Regions from separate parts of the Homo sapiens genome. Here region 1 is linked to region 2. The links come from fine-mapping of genetic effects on gene expression. A gene starts in region 2. The other region holds a variant in brackets. All regions are shown on one strand. Distances are between the middles of the regions.

Region 1 (5,381 bases), 83 kb after region 2:
TACTTTTCTTACATTTAAAATGATGAATGTGTTACTGAGGTTCATCATGTAAAAATATTTACTTAATACACCATGTCTTTTTTTGTTTGTTTGTTTTTGAGATGGAGTTTTGCTCTTGTTGCCCAGGCTGGAGTGCAATGGCGTGATCTCAGGTAACCGCAGCCTCCGCCTCCCGGGTTCAAGCAATTCTCTTGCCTCAGCCTCCCGAGTAGCTGGGATTACAGGCATGTGCCACCACGCCCAGCTAATTTTGTGTTTTTAATAGAGACGGGGTTTCTCCATGTTGGTCAGGCTGGTTTCGAATTCCCGACCTCAGGTGATCCGCCCACCTCGGCCTCCCAAAGTGCTGGGACTACAGGCGTGAGCCACTGTGCCTGGCCCCATACACCATGCCTTAAATGTGCTGAAAATAATTTTTGTAACTTCATTTTAATGTAAAAGTTTAATAAAGTTCAGAATATCTTTTAAACCTTTGAAAATGACTTTGTTGATTTTAATGAGGACTAAGTGATTTATTCATATTCACATGCTTTTGAATAATCCCTGTTATGTATAAGGATTCTTTACTAAATATTTTGGGTATTTCCTCTACCTAAAGACACTATTATGCAACAGACAGAATTTCCATTTGAAAGGGTTAGAATATTGCTGTATTACACATATTCATATGTCCCTTCTTTTCCTTCCTATACAAAGTGTTGTTTTGAATTTTTAACAATTTATTTTTCTTCATCTTTAGAGAGTAAAACTTGTCTCGGCACAGAGTCAAGTAAAGAAAGCCAACATACAGTGGAGCCCCTGGGGAGCAGTCCCTGCTGTCATCAGATGGACGTGCAAACAGATTCCCCAAGCCTTTCGGTAACTGCAGGAAAGGACCACATGGAGGAGCTGCTCTGCAGCGCTGAAGCCACGTTAGCGCTCCACACCCAGTCCTCCGAGACAGCAGGGAGCCCGTCTGGGCCAGACTCTTCTGAGGATGCTTGTGAGGATGACAGTCGCTTGCAGCTGGCTCAAACAGAGGCCTGCCAGGATGTGGCCAGAATAGAGGGCATTGCTGAAGACCCTAAGGTGTTTCTTTCCAGCAAGTCAAAGACAGAGCCGTTGATTTCACCAGGCTGTGACCGTATACCTCCTGCATTGATTTCTGAGGGTAAATATTCACAGGCTCAGAGGAAAGAACTCCGTTTGCCACTTCGGGATGCTTCTGAGGCGTTGCCCACAGACCAACTTGAGAACAATGAATTAAATGAGCTGCAGCAGCCTGATCTTACAGACAGTGATGGAAAATCACCACAGGCGCAGGCTGACTCAGACGGTTCTGAGAATGTGCTCTGTGGAAATAATCAAATATCTGACTTAGGCATACTGCTTCCAGAGGTGTGTATGGCCCCAGAGGAAAAGGGAGATAAAGACGACCAACTCAACAAAGAAACAGAAGACTATTTGAACAGCCTTTTAGAAGGATGTTTAAAAGATACTGAAGATTCCCTTTCCTATGAAGATAACCAAGACGACGACTCCGATCTCCTTCAAGATCTCTCTCCTGAAGAAGCATCCTATAGTCTCCAGGAGAATCTGCCTTCTGATGAGAGCTGTCTTTCTCTTGATGATCTTGCCAAAAGGATAGAGATTGCAGAGGTAAATCAGAGATGAAGTACAATTAAAAGTAAAATGGCATTTAAAAAACATATATATGTATTAAATATTGCCTTGTTTTTGTAAGTTTTCCCTTGTCTCAAACATGAGGGAAAATTCTAGTTAACGTAAGCTTTTAATTATTAGTAGTTTTTACATTTGTATGTATTGAATAAAATGACTTTTAATCATTGCAATGTTCATACTACAAGATGTTCTATTGCATGCCTCCAGCTAGAGTGAGCGTTATTGTATATATCCATTTTTTATAGTCCTGACTGTTATGTGGCAGTTCCAGATATTGGAATCAAAACCAGAATAGTCACATTCTAATAAGGAAGTCTCATTTTTCTTCTCATACATCTAGCAGATAAAATATGATATGTACTTACTGTTTCTTCCTCTTGTTAATATATTTTTTAAGTCTTTTAAAATAGTCTAAAGAATAGAGGGAACATTTTAAAATATAAGAGGTACTAGATTAATTTTTAACCTTATATTAAGTTGAAAAAAGAGATTAAGGAAAAATTACCATTTTTCATTGTTTGATAATACAAAAAAAAAGTTTGGAAAAAGAAAAGATAAAAGCCATATCCAAACTACAGCACACTCA[C/T]GAAGGCGGCCTGGTGTGGTAGAGCAGAATTCGATTGCCTTAGTTCCAGTACAATCCCACCAGGTAGTTAACAGCTTCTTGGAGTTACCTTTTACCTCTGTAAGCCTGTTTTCTTCTCTGAAAATTAGGATACTAGCTGCCTTTCCTTTTCTTCACCATTTTTCCCCCCAAGTTCACTTTTAAGTCCCATTTGTACTCATTGTGTTCTAAATCAGCATTATCATTGAAAAAATAAGGGGGAAAATGAAAAAGTAACAAAGCCAAAGTAGACAGTAAAATATATGTGAAAACAGAAGACTGAAAAGCTGTCTAAGGTAATTATAGCTGCTATATTACTAGCTCCCTTTATTGCCATTTATAGTCAATTCTCTATAAACAATGACTTTTCTTTTTAATTTTTTTCTTGCCAAAATTAGATAGAATAGTAAAGCACTTGGCTTACTATTCATTCTCTTATTTTAACCAGACAGCTTGGTTGCCATTTGCAGTTAATTCTCTACAGACTGTTGTTTTGTTTTTTTTTTTTTTTCGTAGTTTTTGCTTAACAAAATTATTTAATATTGCTTAATGGGCACAGAATTTCCATTTGGGGCAATGAAAAATGTTGGAAATAGATGGTGGTGATGGTACACGTTTTGATTGCAATGAATGCCACTGAATTGTATACTTACAAAGAGTTAAAATGGCAGTTTCATGTGATATATATTTTTCCACAATGTTAAAAATAGTTTTTTAAAAAATTAGAGCTAATGGTATAGCACTTAATCCGGTATTCATTCTCTTGTACATTTTAACTAAATCTCTGGTACAGGAAGTTAACAACACAAAGCTTATACCCATATTCAAATCTTAGCTGTAATACCAAAAAGTTACCATTGTCTGACTGTCCTTTCTCATGCCAACAATCAAGTTGACCATAAAGGGAGAACCCATGTGGTCTAATTTTACCTTTTTAGGTATAAACTGTGAAGAAGAAGCAGAGAGCTCCTGTTGTCTTGCCCACCTTATAAAACGTTTTCCTCTATTTCAACATTTGACTAGTTACACACTGATAATCATATGGTGTGCCTTTTTAGAACTATCTTTCCCCAGTAACTCATATTTGGGAGGATAATAGGAACTTTTGGAATTTCAATTTTTGCTTCTGCCTGAAAGCTGTTCGGCTGGATAAATTTCTATCATCTAGTTTGCCAGATGTCCCCTCCAGAGCAATTCTTTGAGTTTTGGTAACCTTTATCTTCAACCTCCTCCCTACTCAGCTGTGTTGAAGATGCACAAGGGTCTTGTCGTGGATGTATCAAAGGTCTGTAGCATTTCTCCTGTATATTTCAGTCATCTATTGACATGTATTTCCAAAGCCTACAATTGATCAACATCCCTTTCCCAAATTATTTTTCCCCACATCACTAAATTTAAAATTGTTCTCAACTGAGTCATCCTATTTCTAAGAAATTAAAGAGTTGTTTATATTGGGGAAAAAATATTTTAAGGTGGCAGATTGTTAAATTAATGTTGCGTATTACAATTAAATGGAATATTCCCTCCTCAGACTCAAAACACAATGTCACTTCTGCTGGGTAACAGCTAACAGTGGAAATTACATGTGTTTAAAGTTGTCTTTTCTATTAAGTTAATACATAATGGTCTCCTTTCCTAAGATTATATTGATCTATTAAGTTAAGCTATTTTAAGAACCCCAAAAGCTACATATACATGACTTACAAAACTAATTTACTTTCCTATGACAATGCCAAGCAGATTGTTAAACATTTGCTTTCTGAATACTTACTACCCTCGCTATTCTGAAAAGCATGGTTTAACAAAGTCTGCCTAACTCTGTCAGGAAAGGAGTTTTTAAAGTTTCAATGCTAAAAATCACTAATACTTAATATTTTCTAATACCTTAACAATGAGGTTTTGGACCAAGTAAAATATCCAGGCAATTGTGGGTTTGCTTATAAGTGCAAACTTAGGATTTTTATTTTAAAAATTTCTTTTAGATTTGAACATATAAAATTTTAATTCAAACTTTTTTTTTTTTTTTTTTTGATACAGAGTCTCACTCTGTCGCCCAGGCTGGAGTGCAGCGGCACGATCTCAGCTCACTGCAACCTCCATCTCCTGGGTTCAAGCAATACTCGTGCCTCAGTCTGTCGAGTAGCTGGGACTACAGGCATGCACCACCATGCCCTGCTACTTTTTATATTTTTAGTAGAGATGGGGTTTCACCATGTTGGCCAGGCTGGTCTTCAACTCCTGGCCTCAAGTAATCCACCTACCTCGGCCTACCAAAGTGCTGGGATTACAGGCTTGAGCTACCATGCTTGGCCTTCAAACACTTTTTCTGTTTGTGCTTTCAGTAAAATTTTATTAAGAGTCTTCCCTGTGTTTGGTGCTGAGGATACAATGAGAAATCAGATGATGTTGTTGGCCTTTTGGGGGATCTCTGCTGTCACACTTGGCTGATTTTACTGGAATTGTTTTTGAAATTTTTTTTTATGCTTCCTTCCGTTTGTGATTAGAGGATATAGAACATGATCTCTTAATAACCAAGTAATTATGAACAACATTTTTCTTGCACTTAGGAACCCCGAGGCAATGAGTCTGCCCCCTCCACCCCTCCACGCTGCTGTGCTATCGCAGGTGGTCCTTCTCTGTTCGCTTTCCCAGATCTCCCTATCATTTCTCCCCGCCCAGGTTCTCTTACTTCCCTCTTTCTACCATTGTGTTTGTGGTAGAGCATGCTGGTTTGTTCTTTCTTTGCCAGCTTTCCCCTTTCCTCTTGTCTGTCTGCTTTCATTTTCTTGCCACTTTTGCATTGCCCAGCCTTGGCTCCAGTGGAATTTGGTTTTGATCATCATTGCCAGCCCAGTGCAAGCACTTGTTTTGTTGTGTTGCTTTGAACAGTTGGATTCATCAGATCAAATGAAATAATTTACATAAAATGTCACAGAGAACTAAAAATGTCTATACTATTTATATAGTGACATGTATAAAGGGAACTTGTCTAGGTTTGGAAAGCTTTTTCAAACCCAGTAATTTGCTATGTAAAGTGATAGCTTAATATCTGAAGTATTGCTATTCTTTCTTACATAAAAAATAGCATGACACGTTATCATCAAAAGTATAGTTT
Region 2 (5,342 bases):
ACAAGGAGATTGTTCACATGGGTGGGTGACATAGTGACACCTTTGCTTTCTGATGGTCCAATGTACACAAATTTTGTTTAATGCACAAAATTATTTAAAATATTATACAGAATTGCCTTTAGGCCTTATGAATAAGATGTATATGGAACAAAAAAGGAATTTTTAGACTCGGGTCCCATCCCCAAGATATCTCATTATGTATATGCAAATATTGCAAAATATGAAAAAATTTGAAATCCAAAACAGTTGTGTTCCCAAGCATTTCAGATAAAATACTTAATTTGTATGCCAACCTTTCTTGCCTTTCAAACCCTAAATATAGAGGTTACACAGATCCATTAACCTAATATTAGCACTTATTCCAATTAGATTCCAAGCTCACAGAAGAAAGGAGCACAGCGCAGCTTAGTAGAAATGGGGAAACAAGCCTAGGGATGCCAGTTATACGCTTTGTTCAAAGTCACCCAACTAGGCTGTAGCCGACCTAGAACTAGCAAACAAGTCTTAGAACTCCTCATGTTTCAGCCATTCAACAGCACTGAATATTAACTGTGTTCTAGTCTTTGGGAATAAACAAGATATTTCAGAGATGGCTCCCTAAAAGATATTCTATGTAAAACACTGTGTGCTTAATTCCATTTCCTTAAACCACTCACAGATAGTTGAACAAACAATAACATACGTTGAGAAACTAAAAATATACCTCCAAATGTGGAATAAAAGTTTTGTCACTTTCGAGCGCAACCACTTTGGCACCAGCTTCAAGTAATGCCTGAGTCAGGATTCCAGGACCTGGCACATTAACAGAACGAAAAGTTTATTTGTACAAGAAACATAATCTCTTTCAATACCAAACTTTCATTAGATGTTTCACACGTTATTACCTGGTTTTTAAATCTGACAGCATCCGCAAAGTAGATGTCACTCTCCTTTTTACATATAAGGAAACAGGAGATTATATATACTTATTTGACTCCAGCGTCAAAAGTGATGCAGCTTGGCTTTGAAATCATTGTCAGCGACTGCAAAACCTGCACTCTTTTTTTTTTTTTTTTGAGACGAAGTCTCACTCTGTCACCCAGGCTGGAGTGCAGTGGGGCAATCTCGGCTCACTGCAACCTCTGCCTCTTGGGTTCAAGCGATTCTCCTGCCTCAGCCTCCCGAGTAGCTGGGATTACAGGCGCCCGCCACCACGCCCGGCTAATTTTTGTATTTTAAGCAGAGACGGAGTTTCACCATGTTGGCCAGGCTGGTCTGGAACTCCTGACCTCAAGGGAACCACTCGCCTCGGCCTCTGAAAGTGCTGGATTACAGGCGTGAGCCACCGCACCAGGTCAAAACTTGCACTCTTCATCACCATGATTCACTACCTCTTAGAAGAAAAAAGTCACAGCAAAATAGATTGCCTCTAGCCTATCACTTCCTCACGGACTACACGGATGCTTTAACCATCAAAGAGATTGTCAAGCCTAAACAGAACTGACTCCCTGTGATATGAAATGGTGCTTTAAAAAACTATCATTCAAAAAGCCTATAAATCTTGTGTTCTTAGCATCCTGCTATGGTCTATAGGGAATGCACGGAAGAATAAGATAACATCATTTTTTCAGCTGGCAGAGGCTTGCAACTCTTTTGGGGAGATAAGATCTAAGAGCATGTTTTATCAAAATATTGTGTAAAGTGCAAGCTGCTACAGAAATACTTTGTGGTGTCATTAACGATACAGACTCTACGCTTATGTAGTGGGCAATCTCTCCAACTAAGGAGCTTCAAACAAAGACCCGTATCTGGACGGGCGCAGTGGCTCACGCCTCTAATCCCAGCATTTTGGGAGACCTAGGGGGGAGGATCACGAGGTCAAGAGATCGAGACCATCCTGGCCAACACGGCGAAATCCCGTCTCTAGTAAAAATAAGAAAATTAGCTGGGCGTGGTGGCGCGCGCCTGTAGTTCTTGCTACTCGGGAGGCTGAGGCAGGAGAATCGCCTGAACCCGGTACGCGGAGGTTGCAGGGAGCCGAGATCGCCCCACTGCACTCCAGCCTGGCAACACAGCGAGACTCCGTCTCAAAGCAAAAGAACAACAAAAAAGACCCCCCAGTATCTAAAATAGCACCCCGAGGAGGGTCAATACGTTTGAATAAATGATGAACATCCAAGAAAATGCAATTCAGCTGGACTCACCTGGATTGCACTCCAGCAGTAGGTGTGGAGGTCTACTTGGTTTTCCCAAATAGATTTGCGCCAGGGTCTCAGCCAATCTCCGATCGGTTACGTAACGCTTAAAGTCTAAGCTGGCCTTAGACGCCTTCCTTGGCGGATTCCTGAAATCCGGTTCGGGCCACAGCTGCGGAGAGGAGTCAGAGAGCCCACAGTGGTTCCTCGCCGGCAAATGCTTTCGCGTCGCCGCTTCAGACCCTAAAATGCAAAAGCGACCAGCGCCCGCCAAGGCGGAGAGCCTCAGCCGCCGAGGAAGCCCGACCACTGGGATCCACATGTCCTTGTCTCTCAGGCCCGCTCCAAGAATCACCTAGTGCAGCTACTACAGTGAACCCCACGCAGGGTATCCCACGTGGAACATTTTCTGGCGTCCGGGCCAGGTCAAGCGGAAGTAAACACTAGAGCCTGCGCATGCGAACAGCGGAGCCTTCCTGCTTTTCTCCCTCACTTCCGCTTCCGCCTCGGCTCAGCCGCCCGAGGATTGTGAGTGGACCGTTGAGGAGAGCGACCGACCATCCGGCTGGTGTCCGGACTCGTACTCTATGGTTGTCCGCGCTCTGCGCTTCCTCTCTAGCCGCCAGTGCTCTATGCTCCGCGGTCGCGGGCCGCCAGCCTCCAGCCGGCCAGCCGCGAGGGGTGCGCAGAGGGAGGCGGGGCGGAAAGGCGAGAGGTGTCTCCTCCACCGGAGCCAGGGGAGACCCGAGCAAGCTCCGTGACAGCACGTCGGCCGCCATGTCGCCGAGTGGGGCTGGAAACAGACCCGGCGCCCAGCGGTAGCCCTCCTTGCGCCTCCGATTCCCAGGTGAGGAGAGGAGGAGCGGGATGCAGGGGACCCGCCGGCTCGCGGCCGGGATGGAAAGCCTTTCGGAAGCCTCTCGCTCCTCCCCCTGCGCTGTCCTCCTCCAGCCGCGCAGCCTCTGCCCTCCGGGTGAGGTGTAGCCCGGTCCCCTTACCTCCTCCGCCTCTCAGGTCGCCTGTTTTCCTCTCCTTTCTCAGCTACTGTGGGTCTCCTATTGCTGCGCGTCGCGCCAATTTCTCCCTCCCTAGGGGACTAGCGCCAGAAGTCGTTCCTCACCCGGCTCCTGGAGGAGCCTGCGGCTTCCACGGTCTCCGTTCCTTTCTGTTGTGTGGCCCACAGCCCGCTCTCCCCACCCTCGTGGATGGTTTTCATTTCCCCCCCACACCTGGTCCCCCCCATCACTACCACTTTGGTTGTCAAGAACCGCGTGGTGTCTCCCTTCCATTCCTCTCTCTGGGCCAATATTTTCCTTAATTTTTTCAGTTTGTGTGTTTAAAAGACTTAAAGTTAAGATTAAAAATGAAGATGTAAAAGCTTACAATTCCTTTCTAAGCTTAAAAAGATTAAGACTTTAGGATGCTTACTGTATTCCTTATGTAAACTTAGTCAAACACATCGTACTGTGGAATGCGATTTAAAAGACCCAATTTTGAAGACTAAAAATAGGATGCTGTAATGGAAATTTTGGCAGTCTTTTTTTTTTTACCTATTGGGCAATGTTAGAAGACACGGTTCTTTGAGAGTGTTTTCCGTGTTTCAGGATCAAACTTAGAGCTTTTACCCATTATCCTTACCACCAAGGCAAGAAACGGCAGCCAATCAACTCCGTGTCTTAGAATACGTACAATCCTTTCTGCTTACTCTACTGAGAGTGTAATTGAGTTTGGCATTTAAATGCACGAGGAAAAGGTTCCTAAGGAATGTATCACCCAGCAAATAGTCTGAAGATTATACTCATCTGATGAAGCTCAAGCGGATAAAGAATTGACAACTAAATATGACCTTTTGTGTATTATAAATTTGTTAGGACATCATAGAAAATATCTCATCAACTGTTGTGCAAACTGTGGGGACTCACTCATTGGTCTTAATTTGCTTAAATTCTTTTTTCGTACAGTTTTCTCACTGACAATTTTCTAGAGGTGACTTTGCATCCTCTGAACCTCTCTCCATTACTGAGCTGCCTCCCCCTCTCCCCTTAAAAAACATTTTCATAGATTCAGAAATACACTTTTTTCCCCCTCCAGGACCTGGAGTCCTAAATATTTTTAAATCAGATAAAATAGAATTATGTCTTCATGGTTCACTCATAGAAATGTGTCGTTGAATTTCTGACTTTTTAAAAAAAACACTGTGGTGGCTGGGTATGGTAGTTCATGCCTGTAATCCCAGCACTTTGGGAGGCCAAGGTGGGAGGATCACTTGCTGCCGGGAGTTCGAAGCCAGACTGGGCAACATAGACTCTGTCTCCTTAAAAAAAAAGAAAGAAAGAAAAAGAGAAAAAGAAAAATAAACACATTGTGGTTAAAAACAAAACAGTTATTTTAAAATGCACTGTCTTATTTCATAATGTTTGTGGACCAAAGTTAGCCTACTGAGTCCTAGAAAAACTGATGTCATTTTTTATTTTGCTTTTGAGTGTTATTATTTTCTCTTGGTTTTGGGAAAGAGAATTACATTATAATATTCCCTTTTTACAGTGTTGATGGTTCACTTGTTTGTAATTGAAGGTACTTGAATAATAAGAGATTTTTGTACATCTTATTTTTTTTCTGAGGTCCCAGGTGCTGAGAATGTTGATTTCACCTTAAAGATGAACTTTATGATCAGGATTTAGACATACTTTATTAGAAAAACTTGATTAGTGTGCAGTATTTCCCATCTTTTTTCTTAAGAAGTGTGGTTTTCTATCCTATGCTGTTTTTGCCTTTTTGAAGTAATTTTGAGATGGAGTCTACTCTGTCGCCTAGGCTGGTGCCATCTCGGTTCACTGCAACCTCCGCTTTTCGGGTTCAAGCAGTTTCTCCTGCTTCAGCCTCCCGAGTAGCTGGGATTACAGGCTCCTGCTACTATGTCCAGCTAATTTTTGTATTTTTAGTAGAGACGGAGTTTCGCCATGTTGGCCAGGGTGGTCTTGACCTCAGGTGATCCTCCGACCTCCACCTCTCAAAGTGCTGGGATTACAGGCGTGAGCCACCACGCCTTTAAAATACTTTTTTTCTTGCTTTTTACATTTAAATATATTTATTTATTTGTGAAGGCGGAGTTTTGCTATGTTGCCCAGGCTGGTCTCAAATTCCTGGCCTCATGCAATCCTCCCACCT

The links. PIP is the estimated chance that this variant, and not a neighbour inherited with it, causes the effect.
Region 1: its variant is fine-mapped to the expression of CNST in whole blood (TOPMed, PIP 0.94).

Annotation. Positions count from the first base shown.
Region 1 is chr1:246,646,400-246,651,780 of GRCh38, forward strand. It overlaps CNST (consortin, connexin sorting protein), which reads left to right. Exons shown (of 11, transcript NM_152609.3): 9 at 740-1,638. Among named protein-coding and RNA genes, the nearest start is that of SCCPDH, 75 kb to the right of the region's middle. RefSeq lists an enhancer at 663-1,862. The variant C/T (reference allele first, on the strand shown) is at 2,249.
Region 2 is chr1:246,563,643-246,568,984 of GRCh38, forward strand. CNST (consortin, connexin sorting protein) reads left to right here and starts at 2,814. Exons shown (of 11, transcript NM_152609.3): 1 at 2,814-3,021. It overlaps TFB2M (transcription factor B2, mitochondrial), which reads right to left and starts at 2,619. Exons shown (of 8, transcript NM_022366.3): 1 at 2,184-2,619; 2 at 704-792. The coding sequence starts at 2,496. RefSeq lists enhancers at 2,309-2,588, 2,819-2,878, 2,919-3,418.